2 linked regions of the Homo sapiens genome follow. The protein of the gene in region 2 interacts with the protein of the main gene of each other region in a biochemical or structural test. Each region holds a gene or a part of one and is shown on either strand. Other genes may lie near its edges.

Region 1 (7,633 bases), on a different chromosome or scaffold from region 2:
TGGACGCCATCACCTCTGAGCATCGCCTCCAGGTGGGTCCAACCTTCTCCCTTCCTTCTACAGATCAGGAGGGCTCCAGGGTCTTCCCTAAGTTCCAACATTCTGAGTGTAGAAATGTATTTAGAGGGAAGAGTGTATTTTTTGCACCTAGACCTTGGGTTTCTAAATGTCATTCTCCACCAAGAAGCAGCAGGATTTGTTGGAGAATGGCTGATTCCAGGACTGTGGCCAGGAGAGCAGCAGCCTAGAATCCGTTATGCAGACAAGGCGGCAATGCCTCAAGACTCAGCCGCCGGGAACCAGCACCACGGGGATCCCGCCGGCCACAGCTGGGATAAGTTTTGTGTCAAGGCAAATAATAACAATAACAGATTATAAGCCATTAAATAAGAAACCATGAGCCTACACTGCTAAATAGACATGTTACTTATTTGTGACGGAGTCTCGCTCCGTCACCTAGTTTGCAGTGCAGTGGTGTGATCTTAGCTCACTGCAATCTCTGCCTCTGGGGTTCAAGTGATTCTCTTGCCTCAGCCTCCCGAGTAGCTGGGACTGCAGGTGCGCACCATCACGCCTATTTTTGTATTTTTAGTAGAGATGGGGTTTCACCATATTGGCCAGGCTGGTCTCGAATTCCTGACCTCAGGTGATCTGTTCACCTTGGCCTCCCAAAGTGCTGGGATTACAGGCGTGAGCCACTACGCCTGGCCTTATTTGTTCTTACGGCAGAAAGTCAACCAAAAAGTGGAGAAGAAATGCTGGAATTGAGAACACCACCACTGGACTATCATCCTAGAAATGAAGCGATTCAAGCAGGAATCACTGACAGATACCCAAAATGTGGGTCAGCTTGGTGCAAATGTATTTATGTGGTAACAAAGTATCTCTTTCAAGATACTGAATTACAACAGGAAAAGTTGTAACTTTTTACAACAGACACCACCTTCACTAAACGCAGGCTCTGGGACAGTCTCACCAGAGTGCACAGCTGCGATCTAACTGAGGGATGTCCTACTAAACCAGGCAATGATACAGAAAGAAAGAAAGACGAAGGAGCTGACTCTTGAGGGTTCAACCAGCGATGCCACGTGGGGTCCAGGGCTTGCTTTTGTTACAAAGGACTTTATTAGGACTATTAGTGCTATGTAAGAGCACGTCTTTGTTTTCAGGAAACTCAAGTATTTAGGGGTGAAGTGACATCACACCTGCAACTAACTCTCCAACTCCAGAAAAATGTGCGTGTGCATGGGGAAAGATAAGCAAACTCAGCAAAGCATTAACATTTGCGGAATCTGGGGTGAAGCTGGTGTGAGAATTCTGTGCACTGTTCTTGCAACTTTAAGGTCAAAAATTATGTCCCAAAAGAGCCAGAGTGGCTGGGTGTGGTGGCTCACGCCTGTAATCCCAGCACTTAGCGAGGCTGAGGCAGGATCACCTGAGGTCAGAAGTTCCAGACCAGCCTGGCCAACGTGGTGAAATCGTCTCTACTAAAAATACAAAAATTAGCCGGGTGTGGCTGGGAGTGATGGCTCACGCCTGTAATCCCAGCACTTTGGGAAGCCAAGGCAGGTGGGTCACCTGAGGTCAGGAGTTCGAGATGAGCCTGGCCAACATGGTAAAACCCTGCCTCTACTAAAAATACAAAAATTAGTTGGGCGCGGTGGCTCACGCCTGTAATCCCAACACTTCAGGAGGCCGAGGCAGGTGGATCACCTGAGGTCAGGAGTTCGAGACCAGCCTGGCCAACATGGTGAAACCCTGTCTCTACTAAAAATACAATAATTAGCTGGGCATGGTGGTGGGCACCTGTAATCCCAGCTACTCAGGAGGCCGAGGCAGGAGAATCGCTTGAACCCAGGAGGTGGAGGTTGCAGTGAACTGAGATTGCACCGCTGCACTCCAGCCTGGGTGACAACAGTGAAACTTCATCTCAAAACAAAAAACAAACAGCTTCAAAGGAACAAGTGTTGTTGTTTTGTCTCCTGTGCAGCCACAGGGGTGGGAGCCCCAGGCTGGAGTCCAGTGCAGTGCAGTCGTCAGCTGTGGCTGACGCTCTGCACCTGGTTCAGTCGCCCAGAGCCCAGACGCAGCCATCCTGGAGAACACGCACAGGTGGGGCTCTGGCAGCGGTTACTGAAACTGTGGCTGTAAAGCACAACGTCTGAGGAATGTAAAGAAGGAACAAGGGCAGCCCAGCCTGATTCCCAACACTGCACACATCCACAGAGCCGTGGCTGGAAAGCTTCAACACTGCCACTGTGGTCTAGAGCGAGTCATCCAACAAAACCAGTTCCCAGCACGTCTCAAAACCACGTGGCACCACGTGCACCACACCATTCAGACCCTACTGCCCTCTCTGCTGGGTAAACAGACCTGCAAGGAAAGTCCTTGCCTCAGAACCTCCACAGACCCCAGGGAGCCATGGTGTCAAATGCTTCCAGCCTGAAAACACTTTAACCCCCTGGTGGTATGCTCAGGACAACCAACCAACTGCTCCGGTGCATGCCCACCAGTGAACTGGAGAAGTCAACTGCTGCGGTGCAGGCCCACCAGTGAACTGGCGAAGCCAACTGCTGCGGTGCAGGCCCACCAGTGAACTGGAGAAGCCAACTGCTGCGGTGCAGGCCCACCAGTGAACTGGAGAAGCCAACTGCTGCGGTGCAGGCCCACCAGTGAACTGGAGAAGCCAACTGCTCCGGTGCAGGCCCACCAGTGAACTGACGAAGCCAACTGCTGCGGTGCAGGCCCACCAGTGAACTGGCGAAGCCAACTGCTGCGGTGCAGGCCCACCAGTGAACTGGAGAAGCCAACTGCTCCGGTGCAGGCCCACCAGTGAACTGACGAAGCCAACTGCTGCGGTGCAGGCCCACCAGTGAACTGGCGAAGCCAACTGCTGCGGTGCAGGCCCACCAGTGAACTGGAGAAGCCAACTGCTCTGGTGCAGGCCCACCAGTGAACTGACGAAGCCAACTGCTGCGGTGCATGCCCACCAGTGAACTGGAGAAGCCAACTGCTGCGGTGCAGGCCCACCAGTGAACTGACGAAGCCAACTGCTGCGGTGCAGGCCCACCAGTGAACTGGAGAAGCCAACTGCTGCGGTGCAGGCCCACCAGTGAACTGACGAAGCCAACTGCTGCGGTGCAGGCCCACCAGTGAACTGGAGAAGTCAACTGCTGCGGTGCAGGCCCACCAGTGAACTGGAGAAGCCAACTGCTGCGGTGCAGGCCCACCAGTGAACTGGAGAAGCCAACTGCTGCGGTGCAGGCCCACCAGTGAACTGGAGAAGCCAACTGCTGCGGTGCAGGCCCACCAGTGAACTGGCGAAGCCAACTGCTGCGGTGCAGGCCCACCAGTGAACTGACGAAGCCAACTGCTGCGGTGCAGGCCCACCAGTGAACTGGAGAAGCCAACTGCTGTGGTGCAGGCCCACCAGTGAACTGGAGAAGCCAACATGATGCTGGGTATCAACTCGCTAACTGCATCATTCCCGCCAGTCTATAGTCAGCACAAAAAATGCATCAAAATCGTACGACACCAGCATTCTTCACCATTTAAAGCACCGTAGGGAAATTACTGTCTTTTAAACGCTACTTCAAAAATGTTACAAATATTAAATGAGTTAAGTTTTAGCTCAAGTTCCTCTTAACATTGTAAGGAATTTTGCACATATGATGCTAGATGTATATTTAAAAACCTACCAAGACCATCTCTTCATAACCTTTAAAATGTGCATTTATCCTTTAAGAAATATCACCTGAATCTCTTCAAACTCATCAGTTCCATTCTCTCTACATTCTCTTTCTCCTGAAAATATAAAAAGCACTTTTTTCTGAGACAACTTACATCGCTTGTTTTCCGTTTTGTATTTGTGCACTTTTAAAACACACATAAAACTGAGAATTCATCCATTCCTCTGTACCCAGATACTAGATGATTTCACATAACCCACTTTAAAACTAACTTTAAAGAAACCATGAAAATGGAGACAAATCTGATAATGCACACAAAATTTCTGAAACCTACAAACCATTTCCAGGCAGACGTGCTTCAAAGTCCTTTATCTAAAAGATTAGATCGGAGATACCTAAAAACCCATGACAAAGGTAAATCACAGACGAACAAAACCAAGCAAGTAACAAGGCCCAGTGGTTTTCTGTTAGGTGAAAAGTGGGAAAAACAAAGCAAAACGTTTGAAGTGCAACTTACCCACGTTTAATGGGCTGACAAAGTGACAGCCCCCCAAATTTTAGGCACAAATATCTTTTTTAAAGTATCATCCTTTAAATAGTGCAGGCGTCAACAGGGAAGAATAAAAGTATTCTAAATAATTATTAGAATTGTTAATAATAAAACTATTCTAAAAGAATTACCAATTCATCAAGATTCTTGGTACCAGGATGAAAACGAAATGTCCTTATTTCCAGGACCGGACCCTTAGGTGACGACGTTCGTGCACTGACTGAAGCACATTTAGAATTTCAGAGGCTTCTACTCCCTCATCACAGAACAATAAATTCGGGGACTAATCTTAGGTTGCAGCCTATTCTAACTGTATTACTATTTCTCAGAGATTCTCATTCCAAAATCTACAAAGCAATAAAGACAGCAATACCGTTGCTGTTGGAATGATCTTCATTTTATTCAGCAATGTTTTTCTGCTTCTCTGTGGCACTCTCACACCCTGCGCTGGTGAATGCAGATGCCCTTCCTGTGGACACGCTAAAGGCACAGGTACAGTCTGTCAGACGTCATCAACCCTCGCACACGGCCTCCGCCTGTTAGTTCTCACCAGTCACTGCAGGCTCCCAGATCATTTTAGGTACCTTCCCCTTTCTGTGGCGATTTAAATACCTCCCTGTGAGTGACTGGGAAAAAGCCAAAGCAAAGAAATCTGCAGGAAAAAAAAGACTTAGTTTCTGAAAGATGGTGACCTGTCAGAATATTTTCTATTAAAATAATTGTACTCCACATAAATATTATAAAAGCAGACAAACACTATTGTTCTAGCTACTCCCCCCACACTAGGAATCTCCAGGGCTGAAACCTGGTCTACAGAGAGCAGCACGCAGAGAACCAAGGACAGAGGCTCTCTCAAGGGCCTGAGCACACCACGAGGCATCTGCACCGTCCTCCTCACCAGGACCTCACACCCCGTAAGGAGCACCGCAGAGAAACTGGGAGTAGAGACCACGAGGTCCCTGCACCGTCCTCCTCACCAGGACCTCACACCCCGTAAGGAGCACCGCAGAGAAACCGGGAGTAGAGACCACGAGGTCCCTGCACCGTCCTCCTCACCAGGACCTCACACCCTGTAAGGGGCAGGGCAGGTCCAAACTTCTTGGAACCTCAGTTTCTTTCCAATGGAGTGAGGAGGTTCTTACTTCTGCCAGATAGGATGAAGCCCGACAAAAACATACAATCTTATTAAAGATCAAAACGACAATCTAGTGACTATTGTAACTTCACCCAAATGCAGTGTTTTTAAGTTCCCAGAATGGTTCTTTGTCTAAAAATAACCACTGATGTGGTTAGGATAAATGTTGCTGGTAACAACAATGCAGGCAACGAGGGCACGGACCCACCTTGCCTGGTGACAACAACGCAGGCAACGAGGGCACGGACCCACCTTGCCTGGTGACAACAATGAAGGTAACAAGAGCAGGGACCCACCTTGCCTGGTGACAACAATGCAGGCAACGAGGGCACGGACCCACCCTGCCTGGCTGGTGCTGGTGCTTTTCACAGGTTCACTCACACCTGCTATTTATAGAGGGAGGTTTCACAGGGCCACAGGTTCCATTACCTCTCTCCGCAGTGCTCCGCCTCAGTAACCGACACTAAGCTACACAAGGCTCACTCACACATACCCACGTGGGATTCTTCTTTCTTTGTTAAAATTCCATGCTATAAAGAACTGTTTAGACTGACGTTCTAATCTACGCTCTGGAGCAGCGCGTAGTCTGCTCCTCGGCACTGTGAGCATGCTGGCTGCACATGTACAAGCAACATCCACACCTCTCAGTTTCTCAAACACAGTCTCAGCTAAACAAGTTACTGTCAAGCAGCCGGCGGCCAGTGGGGTCAAGAGCCACCTTCACTAAGGTGATGGCACACAAGCGACGCTTGAGCTTAGCACACTCAGGCTGCTGCCGCTGTCTGCTCTCTGCAAGCTCCAGTTCAGCAGATTTAATGCTATGTTTTCAAAGATACTTCCCGTTATTCCTGAAAAATAAGTATTTTTATAAGCCCTGTGAAAGGATCAAGATAAAGGAACAACAGTGGGTAGGCACCCCCCGGTCCCAAAACCGTCCTGGGCCAGAAGCTAATTCATAACACCTGCAGGGTGAACACAGCGACCAAGCCTCAAGAGACAGGCTGTCCTCCCCGTAAATCCCACACCTCGTCAGCAATGTCCTCAACAACACCCTCGGGAAATCTGATTTCCCAAGACTTTCTCCAAAGGCCCCTCACCAAGGAGCCACCAGGGCACGCAGGCAACCAGTAAGCCCTTGAGGGACCAAAACTGTGTGGCCACATCAAGGGCTTCGCCCAAGCCAGAATTCCAACGTCAGATCGCCTGCGCATTCCTCAGGCAGCCGCCCTGAAACCCCGTTTCTGACACCTGAGTTTCTGATCCATCAGCTGGGCAGGACCTGCTCTCTCTCACCAAGAGCCACGGGGTTCCATTGGTGCTGGGAGGTCCCTGTTAAAAGGGACCTCCTTTCAGCACAAGCCCAGGAGCAGATTCTGCACCTCCCCTGCCCTCACACGCAGATGAGCTGAAGCCAGGGTTGGAGCCTCCACAAAAGCAGTTGTGGATTCTGCCCATGCTTGTCTATACAAGTGCGTGTTATTTGCATAATCTGAAAGGGGTACTCTAAGGATCAATACACGATAATCAGTCTATAAACATTTAAAGCAAACTTCAACCAAATGCTTGCTCTCCCAGATAAAGATCTCAGGAATCTGTAACTTCAAGAGAACTTTTAGAGGTGGTCAAGATAAGTCAATTATAAAACAGCCCACGTGCAATTCTGGGAACTTGCTTAGTAAAAATCAAACACCTGGGCTGGTGAGCAGAGTCAATGACGGTTGAAGGCAGTTCCTCTTCCCTGATGTCTTCACCTTCCAGCCTCCAAGTGGTGGGACACCGCAGAAGAGAACCGCGGAGCTGTTGCTGGAAATGACCACACCAGCAATCAGAGAAAAAAAGAAAAACAGAGGAAAAACCTTTTAAGTGAAAGTGACTCAGGCTCTCTAGAGGAAGGCAGATGCTCTTCACCAACCGACGTCCCAGAGGCGTCGCAGGGATGAGAACTAAACTCACACCTATCACCTTCCAACATCAGGATGGAATTATGCCCAATATTCTCTACTTCATCACAAAGCGGCACAATCTATTATGGAAAGACTTCCATATTTAATCAGTCCCTCATTCTCACGGGGGACGGGCTGCAGGACTCCTTCAGATACCAAATTCCACATCCACAGATACTCAGGTCCCGCAGTCAACCTGGAGAACCCACTGATCCAGAAAGTCAGCGCTCTGTATAAACAGGCTGGGCTCCACACCCAGCAAACAGTGTTGGGCGTGGAACCCATGGATGCGAACAGCAGACGATTTACTGAAAAA
Region 2 (8,265 bases):
AGGCCTTCTTCAGGATCCATTAAGCAGACCTACCGACTGAGGGAAGAAGTAGGGTTTAGGGTCAGGCAGAGTCCTGATCCCCAGGGCCAGTTTCTGTGGGGCAGGAACATTCCCCCGTAAGAGTGGCTCCTCTGAAGAATGTGCCCTCTTACAACCTCCCCTAAAACTCTGCCCCCTCCAGGCTGCTATTTTTGTCTTTAGGGGTAGGGAGCTAATGGGAGGGAGCAGCCCCCCAGTGAACCAGGCAGGGGAAGAGCTAAGAGGTGAGCTCCCTTGGGCCAGCAGCTGAGAACATCCCACTGAATCAGAGACTGCTGAGTGGCCCCCGGAAAGCTCTCCAGAGAGAATCCAACCCCGTTTGTAGAAAAGGAAACCAAGCCAAAGACAGAACTTCCCGTCTGGCCTTGTAGAGTAAGGATGTTTCTCTCTAGGTTTGGTTGCTTTTCTTTACTCTGAACCAGAGAAACCAAGGCCACATCAGCAGAGAAATCAGTTCCCTTGTCCAGTCACTGCTTTCCGCTGGCTCCTTCCTAGTGGGCTCCAGGACCAGCCTCACTCTCTCTTTCCCTTTGCAATCTTAGTACCTGCAGGATCCCCCCTCCTGGGTGTGAGTGTCCCAAGAACTAACTTCTCTCCACTTTTCAGCCCTGCACTCAGGGAGGGTCTATTTAACCACACCCACGTAGGCAGAGAAAGTTGCAGATGTCTGCAGTGCTCCAGTGGAAAAGACCCTGGTGTTGAAGATGTCAGACTGCACTGATTTTAGAAAACCTTTCTCCTAACATTGTACCACAATGTTCTCCAACTTCCGTAAGGAAATGAAATTCAGTTTCTCAACAAGTCTTCTCTCACCTCTCTAGAAAGCCATGCTCTTCGCTCCCCTCCCCACATAACAGGAGAGTTTTGCTGGTTTTACCTGGGCTGCAAATTCTACCTCCCAGGGAAATCCTAAACCTGGCTTAGGATTTGGCTCCCCAAGGAAGAGTCTTTTCGGTGATCACCTGGGGCTCTCTACCTATTACCAGCCAGATCCATCTTACTTAAAAAAAAAAAAAAACTGAAGATGTTTTTGATTTTTTTTTTTAGTTTTAACCCGTTAAACTCAAATCAGATTGGTAAGTTACTTGCATAAATAACTTAGCTTGTAAACATTTAAAATACTTTTTTGAATGAACATATTTCAAAAGCAAATGTGTGTGAGAGAGAGAGGAGAAGGAAGAAGAATGTTTGTTGTTTATCTTTAGGGAAGAGGAAAACCTAGAAGTTTCATTTTCTGTTATATATTTGATTTTTGGTTTTTGGGTTTTTTTGTTTGTTTGTTTTTACAATAAGTTTGCGTTAATTTTAAGATCAGTAAAGTCAACAAAATTCCACTTTGACAAAAAGCCCATGTAAAGAAACACTAATTTATCCTTCTTAAATGAAACATGAATGCCCACCAGTGCTGAAAGTATTGGAACCAAGAATATAATTTGTGCTCGATACACCTGTGCTGAATTAAAACGGTCTGCGGTGATGAGGTTTAATGCAGAGGACTAGAAGGTCAGGGTAGCCTCTGAAAAAAGAAATAATGTAAGAGCAGCTGAGAAATGGGGAAAGCTTGGGCCAAAATGCAGATGGGCAAACAAACTGAAAGGCGGGAGAGACAAAGGCCTGCCCTGGGAATGGCTCAGCAGCGCTTGTAGAAATCCAGAGTAAGACATTCTTTCTATTCAAGGAAGTCACAAAGTTTTTTAAAGACCCGCGGTTACAGCCAATGAATGGAACCAATGGTCTTTTTAACCAGAAGACCCCAGGAAGGCAGAAAATGAGCCAAAGAAAGGCCAGGCAGGGGACAGTGGGGAAAGGAAACAGGGATGGAGAAGCAGAGAGGGAAGTGCAGAGACAGGTCACCCAGGCGCCTGGAAACTGCCTCTATGGCCTTCACGGGAAACGGCCTCTTTCTACTCCGGATCCCAGACTGTGTTTCTTTGAAACTGACCGTCAGAGGAGAGCGGCTGGAGGCGGACAGACGTCTGCAGTGGGAGGCGCTCCAGGCGTTCCAGGCAGTGTCCTGCCGGCGAGTCACCCGCGACCGCGAGTCACCTCACCAAGCCCTGAATTGGGACAGGAGACGAGACGTGTCGACGAGCTGCGGAGTTCCTCGCTTCTCTGGGCCCTGCCAGGTCCAAGAACAGGTTGCCATATAAAAGAATCGTGAAGGGACCCCCTTCCCCATGCAAATTATGTCATATAACGCATATGCCTGTGAAGTTTCTCTGCGGAGCTGCCAGATAACTCGATGACAATATTTTATGCGGTAACATTTTGTTAAATGTTGACTCGATGGCCACTTGACGCCATCTGAACTCTGAAAGCTCGCGTAACAATCATCCTCCAAATGAAATTTTACCCCCTTCTCCCTTTAAAAGGCGGTGGGGACAAAACATCACTTCGTCACTTAAGTCACCATCTCCTTCCTCTTATCTGGGGCTCCCAGCATAGTTCTAGGGGTTCCCGCACTCCCCGCCCGGGTTTGGGCTGCGAGAAGCGCCCGCCTGCGCCCTGCGGGACCTGACCCTGCCGGCTCTGGCTTCACCCTCGCTGCGCCTCGGCCCGGTGGGCTCCCCGCCCAGAGCCCCGCGCGCTCCGTCGCCGGGACGTGGGAGAGGTAGGCACGGGGTGGACCCGAGGAAGCACATCCCGCCCGCGCGCTTCCCCCACGCCCACCTCGCTCCGCACACACCAGCCCCAGAACCTCCCGGCCGCGCGCCCGCCTCCCCGCGCAGCCGCGCCGGGCCGCTCTCTGCTCCTCTGCAGCTCACAGCCAAGGTGCACCAGAGCCTCCGTCACCGCCCCTACAGGTAAATGGGCACGTGGCCAAGGCAGGGGACGGGCTAGACCCCTGGGAAGAGAGAACGGCGGGAGCCGGGCCGCGGGCGACTCACCACTCGGCCTGCGCAGAGAGCCGCTACACCCGCGGCGCCATCCTCGCACTGCGACACCGGCGACAAACGCAATGCTCCAGGGCCGGACGAAGGGACGGCTCTCGGGAGGCTCGCAGACGGCGGGGCGCGGGTCTGTGCGCCGGAGCACTCGAATGAGGGAACCACCTGCGAGGTGAATCTCATATGGAGTCTGCGAGCGGCCCCGCCCTGCCCGGGGGTTACCGCTAGGCTCGGGCCCCGCCTGCCCTGGGCCGGCGAACTCAGCTGACCGCATCCTGGGCCATCCCGCAGACAAGCCCCGCCCGCCCCCACCTTCCTCTGCCCCTCTGGCCCCGCCTCCCCCGCCTTCCTCCTCTCCACCCTCCCGCGAAGGTCCCGGGAGGCTCAGCCCGCAATTGCTTCTCGCCTCTGCAGAGCAGCTGGGCAATTGTAAAGAACCAGCAGCCAGTTCTGTTACTCATTAAACAGCCCCTACTACAGAGGAAATCTTCTTACCCACGTGGTCCTAACCTGGGGCGGAGGAAACCGGGCTAGAAGCGGCTCTAGGACTAACCCAAGGTCACGCCGCCAGGCAGGATCCCCGGTCTGTCTGTCTGGCGGTGGCCCCGCGGCTGGGGCCAGCGGAGAGAAATGACAGCGTGGAACCAGCCCTGGCCCGGTGGTCGGGAATGTGGAGCTGGCACTGTCACTGTGTGTACCCTGGATCTCTCTGGACGGCCTCGGCTTCCCCCCTGGGGAGTTTCTCTGGGACCTTCCTGATCCTGGGAGTTCCCGCTTGCTGGGGCAAAGCCAGGAGCTCGCCCGAGGAGGGGAAGTGACTCATTCACTTCGAGTCGCAGCTAAGTGGCCGAACTGCCTCAAACCGGCGCTGCACTCTGACCCCCAGGGGCCGGACCTGCCTGCCCCCGGCCGGTGCCCACTCTCCGTCTCAGGCGTCTTTCCTGGTCCTCTCCCTGCTTCCCGAACGCGCACTCTGGTGAGAGCACAGAGCCTGGGAAAGAAGACGACCTAGAGGCCCGGGCAGCCCAGCACCTCTGTTACTTGCTTCCTAAAGGGAACTCCAGTTCCTGAGAAAACATGGGGTTGGGCCGGGAGTGGTGGCTCACGCCTGTAATCCCAGCACTTTGGAAGGCCGAGGCGGATGGATCACCTGAGGTCAGGAGTTCGAGACCAGCCTGCCCAACATGGTGAAACCCCGTCACTACTAAAAATACAAAAAATTAGCTGGACGTGGTGTCGCGTGCCTGTAATCCCAGGTACTAGGCAGGCCGAGGCAGGAGAATTGCTTGAACCCAGCGAAGGATGCAGTGAGCCGAGATCGCGCCATTGCACTCCATACTGGGTGACAAGAGTGAAACACACAAACAAATCAAGGAAGGAATTAAGGGTTTTATTGAAAATGAAAGTACGGCCAGGCGCAGTGGCTCACACCTGTAATCCCAGCACTTTGGGAGGCCGAGGCGGGTGGATTACAAAGTCAGGAGTTCAAGACCAGCCTAACCAAGATGGTGAAACCCCGTCTCTACTAAAAGTAAAAAAAAAAAAAAAACAAAAAAAAAAACCTAGCCGGTCACAGTGGCAGGTGCCTGTAATTCCAGCTACTTGGGAGGCTGAGGCAGGAGAACCACTTGAACCTGGGTGGCAGAGGTTGCAGTGAGCTGAGATCATGCCACTGCATTCCAGCCTTGGTGACACAGTGAGACGCCATCTCAAAAAAAAAAGGTAAATGAAAGTACACTCCACAGTGTGGGAGCGGGCCTGAGCGTAGGGGCTCAAAGGCCCCATTCCAGAATTTTGGGGAGTTTCAATGTCCTCCGCTTGGGGCACACACTATGTAAATGAAAGGGATGATGCAAAGTTACAAAGTCATTTACTTGGCCTACGCAGAGGCTATTTCCTGTCATAGCTAAAGTGTGAATCGGCCTTATGTTCCCTGCCTCCAGACCCTATTTTGCTGCCTCAGACTGAAGACTGAAACTGGCCTGGTTAGGAAGTTGCTATTCTCTCTCTCTGAAGGTAGATTAACAACTTAGTTTTAGTTTTGTTACCGGAAAAGGGTCCCAATCCAGACCCCAAGAGAATGTTCTTGGATCTTGTGCAAGAAAGAATTCGGGGCCAGGGTGAGTCCACAGAGTAAAGTGAAAGAAGCAAGCTTATTGAGAAAGTAAAGGAATAAAAGAATGGCAATTCCATGGGCAGGGCAGCCTCTAGGGCTGCTGGTTGGCTATTTTTATGGTTATTTCTTGATCATATACTAAATAAGGGTGGATTATTCATGAGTTTTCTAGGAATTCTTCCTTTTAGAACATATAGGGTAACTTCTAAATGTTGCCATGGTATTTATAAACTGTCATGGTGCTGGTAGGAGTGTCGTTTAGCATGAGAATGCATTGTAATTAGCGAATAATGAGCAATGAGGAAGACCAGAGGTAGTTTTCCTCACCTTGCTGGTTTTTGGCAGGTTTTGGCCAGTTTTGGCTGGCTTCTTTACTGCATCCTGTTTCATCAGCAAGGTCTTTGTAACCTGTATCTTGTGATACCACCTGCCAACCTTCTATTTCATCCTGTGACTAAGGATGCCTAACCTCCTGGGAATGCACTCCAGCAGATCTCAGCCTCATTTTACCCAGCTCCTATTCAAGATGAAGAGTCTCTGAGTCGACTCCTGCTGACATATTTCCTGACTCTACAACCCTTAGGATTAAGGGTTCCCTTGTAAAAGGGAAGGGGGAATAACCAAATAACTCACCCCTTTCTTGGAAAACTCAGGAATAATCCACCCCTTGCTTAGCACATATTCAAGAGTAATCATAAAAAATACCCACCAGCAGCCCTTGGGGATGCTCTGCCTATGGAGTAGCCACTCTTTTATTCCCTTCCTTTCTTAATAAACTTCCTTTTACTGTTCTCTGTGGACTCACCCCAAATTCTTTCTTGTAGGAGATCCAAGAACTTTCTCTAGGGCTCAGGATCAGGACGCCTTTCCAGTAAGTTTGGTGACCTGAAACGTTAGCATGGGTGACTTTATTTTTATTTTTAGTCTTGTCTTTTGGGGCCTAGTGCAAGAGCTTAGTCTAAAACAATGGCCTCCTATAATTTGTGTTTAACATTTGTCAGGTTAAAACCTTGTCAGTGTGACAAACTGGAAACAAAATTGTGTCGGGCCACTACTAAACCACACCCAAAATACCTGTGTCATCAATGTTTGCAAGCAGAGAGCAAATGCAGCCCACCAATGGCCACCTAGAGCAGCAGCTGCTAGAGGCAGGAAAGTCTGGAAGAGACCCAGGGCTTGCAGGCTCAGCCAGGATCCCCCTGCTCCTCAACAAGGTCTTTGGGCTCTTTCAGAGATGCAGTTGGCCCTGAGCTCTGAGAGGTGGGGAGGGAAGGGGCTGAGAGGCTGAAGGCCAGGCCACACCAGATAGTGACACACCACTGCCCTTCAGGTTTCCCAAATCTAAGTAACTTCAAACTCTTTGAAATTCTCCCAAAGCTAATGTGTCTACCTAAAAGAAAGATGAGACAAAATTAACATAGAGAGTTTATTTGTGCCCAGGTTGAGGACTGTAGCCCAGGACACACTTCTAAGTTGCCATGGGGAGTGCTCCAAGAACAAAAAGGAGGCTCAAGTTTTTAAAGAAAAAAGAACAACTCAGGAGATGGGGCGATTGCAGAGTTGTCAGGAATCCTCATTGGTTTACAGAAATAACATTGGTTAGTGATTGCCCACACAGTGTTGAACTATAGGGTGGATGGCATCTTATGGCTAATTGGCCTCAGTTATTCTACAGCCACATAGCAAGTGGCTTCAAGAGGTAACCACTTAGCTGAAGGGGAAGTGAGCCATGACTGCTGTTCTGTTCTAAATGTTCTCTGGGCCTGATAATTTAAAGGCTCACCTTCCTCAGGAAAAGAAATGTGTTTGTTGTTTGTTTGTTTGTTTTCTTTCTCAGATAATATTTTAGAGATAGTAGCTGAGGCTTCTTCTCTGTTTGTCCTCACTTCCCAATTCCTCATGCAATTGCTCTTTTCTTTCCAATCCAGCAGCCATACAGATTTCTAGAACACCCCTCAGAGAGGGCAGAAATTGAGCCGCAGTGTTTTCTAAACAGCTGCCTGGTCCATTCGTGGGTCATGAAACCCATGTGGTGGGTCACAGCTAGCATTTTCATTGTCAGTGAGACAGAATGGAGTGAAAAAGCCTCTGCCTGCTTTCCACACCAGAGCACGTACTTTTATCACACGAACTATGACTCAGACACCACAAACCCAGACCAGGCCTCCAGGTCAGAAGTTGACTCCCCTGAGGCCTGTGGTGAGACTACAGCATGACTCAGACCCCTGAGATTTCAAATTCTTGCCAAAATACAAAAAGTGAGATTCTTCCCGCCAACTCTCACTCATCATATAGAGCTACTCAGTCCCCTGACCCACCCCCAGCTCAGATAGGCTCACAGTGGCAGGCCCACTCCCCTGGCAGCTGAGTCCAGTCTGATGAGCCATCACTTTCCCAGGTTGCTGGTCCTAGTAGTCAACAAAGAGAGTCAAACTCTGTAAAATATTTGAAGAGATTTATCCTAAGCCAAATGTGAATGACCATGGCCCGTGACACAGCAAACGGCCCTCAGGAGGTTCTGAGGACACGTGCCCAAGGCGGTCAGGGTGCAGCTTGGTTTTATATGTTTTAGGAATGCATGAGACAGCAATCAAATACATTTAAGAAATACATTGGTTTGGTCCAGAAAGGCAGGACAACTCAAAGCGGGGTAGGGGGCAGGGTTCAAGGCTATAGGTAAATTTAGACATTTTCTGGTTTACAATTGGTTGAGTTTGTCTAAAGACCTGGATTGATAGAAAGGAAATGTCCAGGTTAAGATAAAAGATTGTGGAGACCCAGGGTATTTGAAGTCTTATAGTGGCTGCCCTTAGAGACAATAGATGACAAATGTTTCCTATTCAGATCTTTAATAAAAGGTGCTAGACACTTAGTTAATCTCTTTTTTTTTTTTTTTTTTTTGAGATGGAGTCTCACACTCTCACCCAGGCTGGAGTGCAGTGGCGCGATCTCGGCTCACTGAAAGCTCCGCCTCCCAGGTTCATGCCATTCTCCTGCCTCAGCCTCCCGAGTAGCTGGGACTACAGGCGCCCGCCACCACACCCAGCTAATTTTTGTATTTTCAGTAGGGACAGGGTTTCACCATGTTAGCCAGGATGGTCTCGATCTCCTGACCTTGTGATCCACCTGCCTCGGCCTCCCAAAGTGCTGGGATTGCAGGCGTGAGCCACCGTGCCCGGCCAGTTAATCTCTTTAAAATTGGGAGAGCCTGGAAGAAAAAGC

The links.
Region 1: of the proteins of UPP1 (region 2) and CTDP1, one has a biochemical effect on the other in vitro, tested with the Homo sapiens proteins (one study listed by BioGRID).

The regions. Positions count from the first base shown.
Region 1 is NC_000018.10:79,682,581-79,690,213, reverse strand, and holds part of CTDP1 (RNA polymerase II subunit A C-terminal domain phosphatase), read right to left. Parts: intron 1-7,633. UniProt on the Homo sapiens protein: Processively dephosphorylates 'Ser-2' and 'Ser-5' of the heptad repeats YSPTSPS in the C-terminal domain of the largest RNA polymerase II subunit. This promotes the activity of RNA polymerase II.
Region 2 is NC_000007.14:48,084,081-48,092,345, reverse strand, and holds the start of UPP1 (uridine phosphorylase 1), read right to left. Parts: upstream 3,082-8,265; 5' UTR 2,928-3,081; intron 2,159-2,927; 5' UTR 1,982-2,158; intron 1-1,981. UniProt on the Homo sapiens protein: Catalyzes the reversible phosphorylytic cleavage of uridine to uracil and ribose-1-phosphate which can then be utilized as carbon and energy sources or in the rescue of pyrimidine bases for nucleotide synthesis.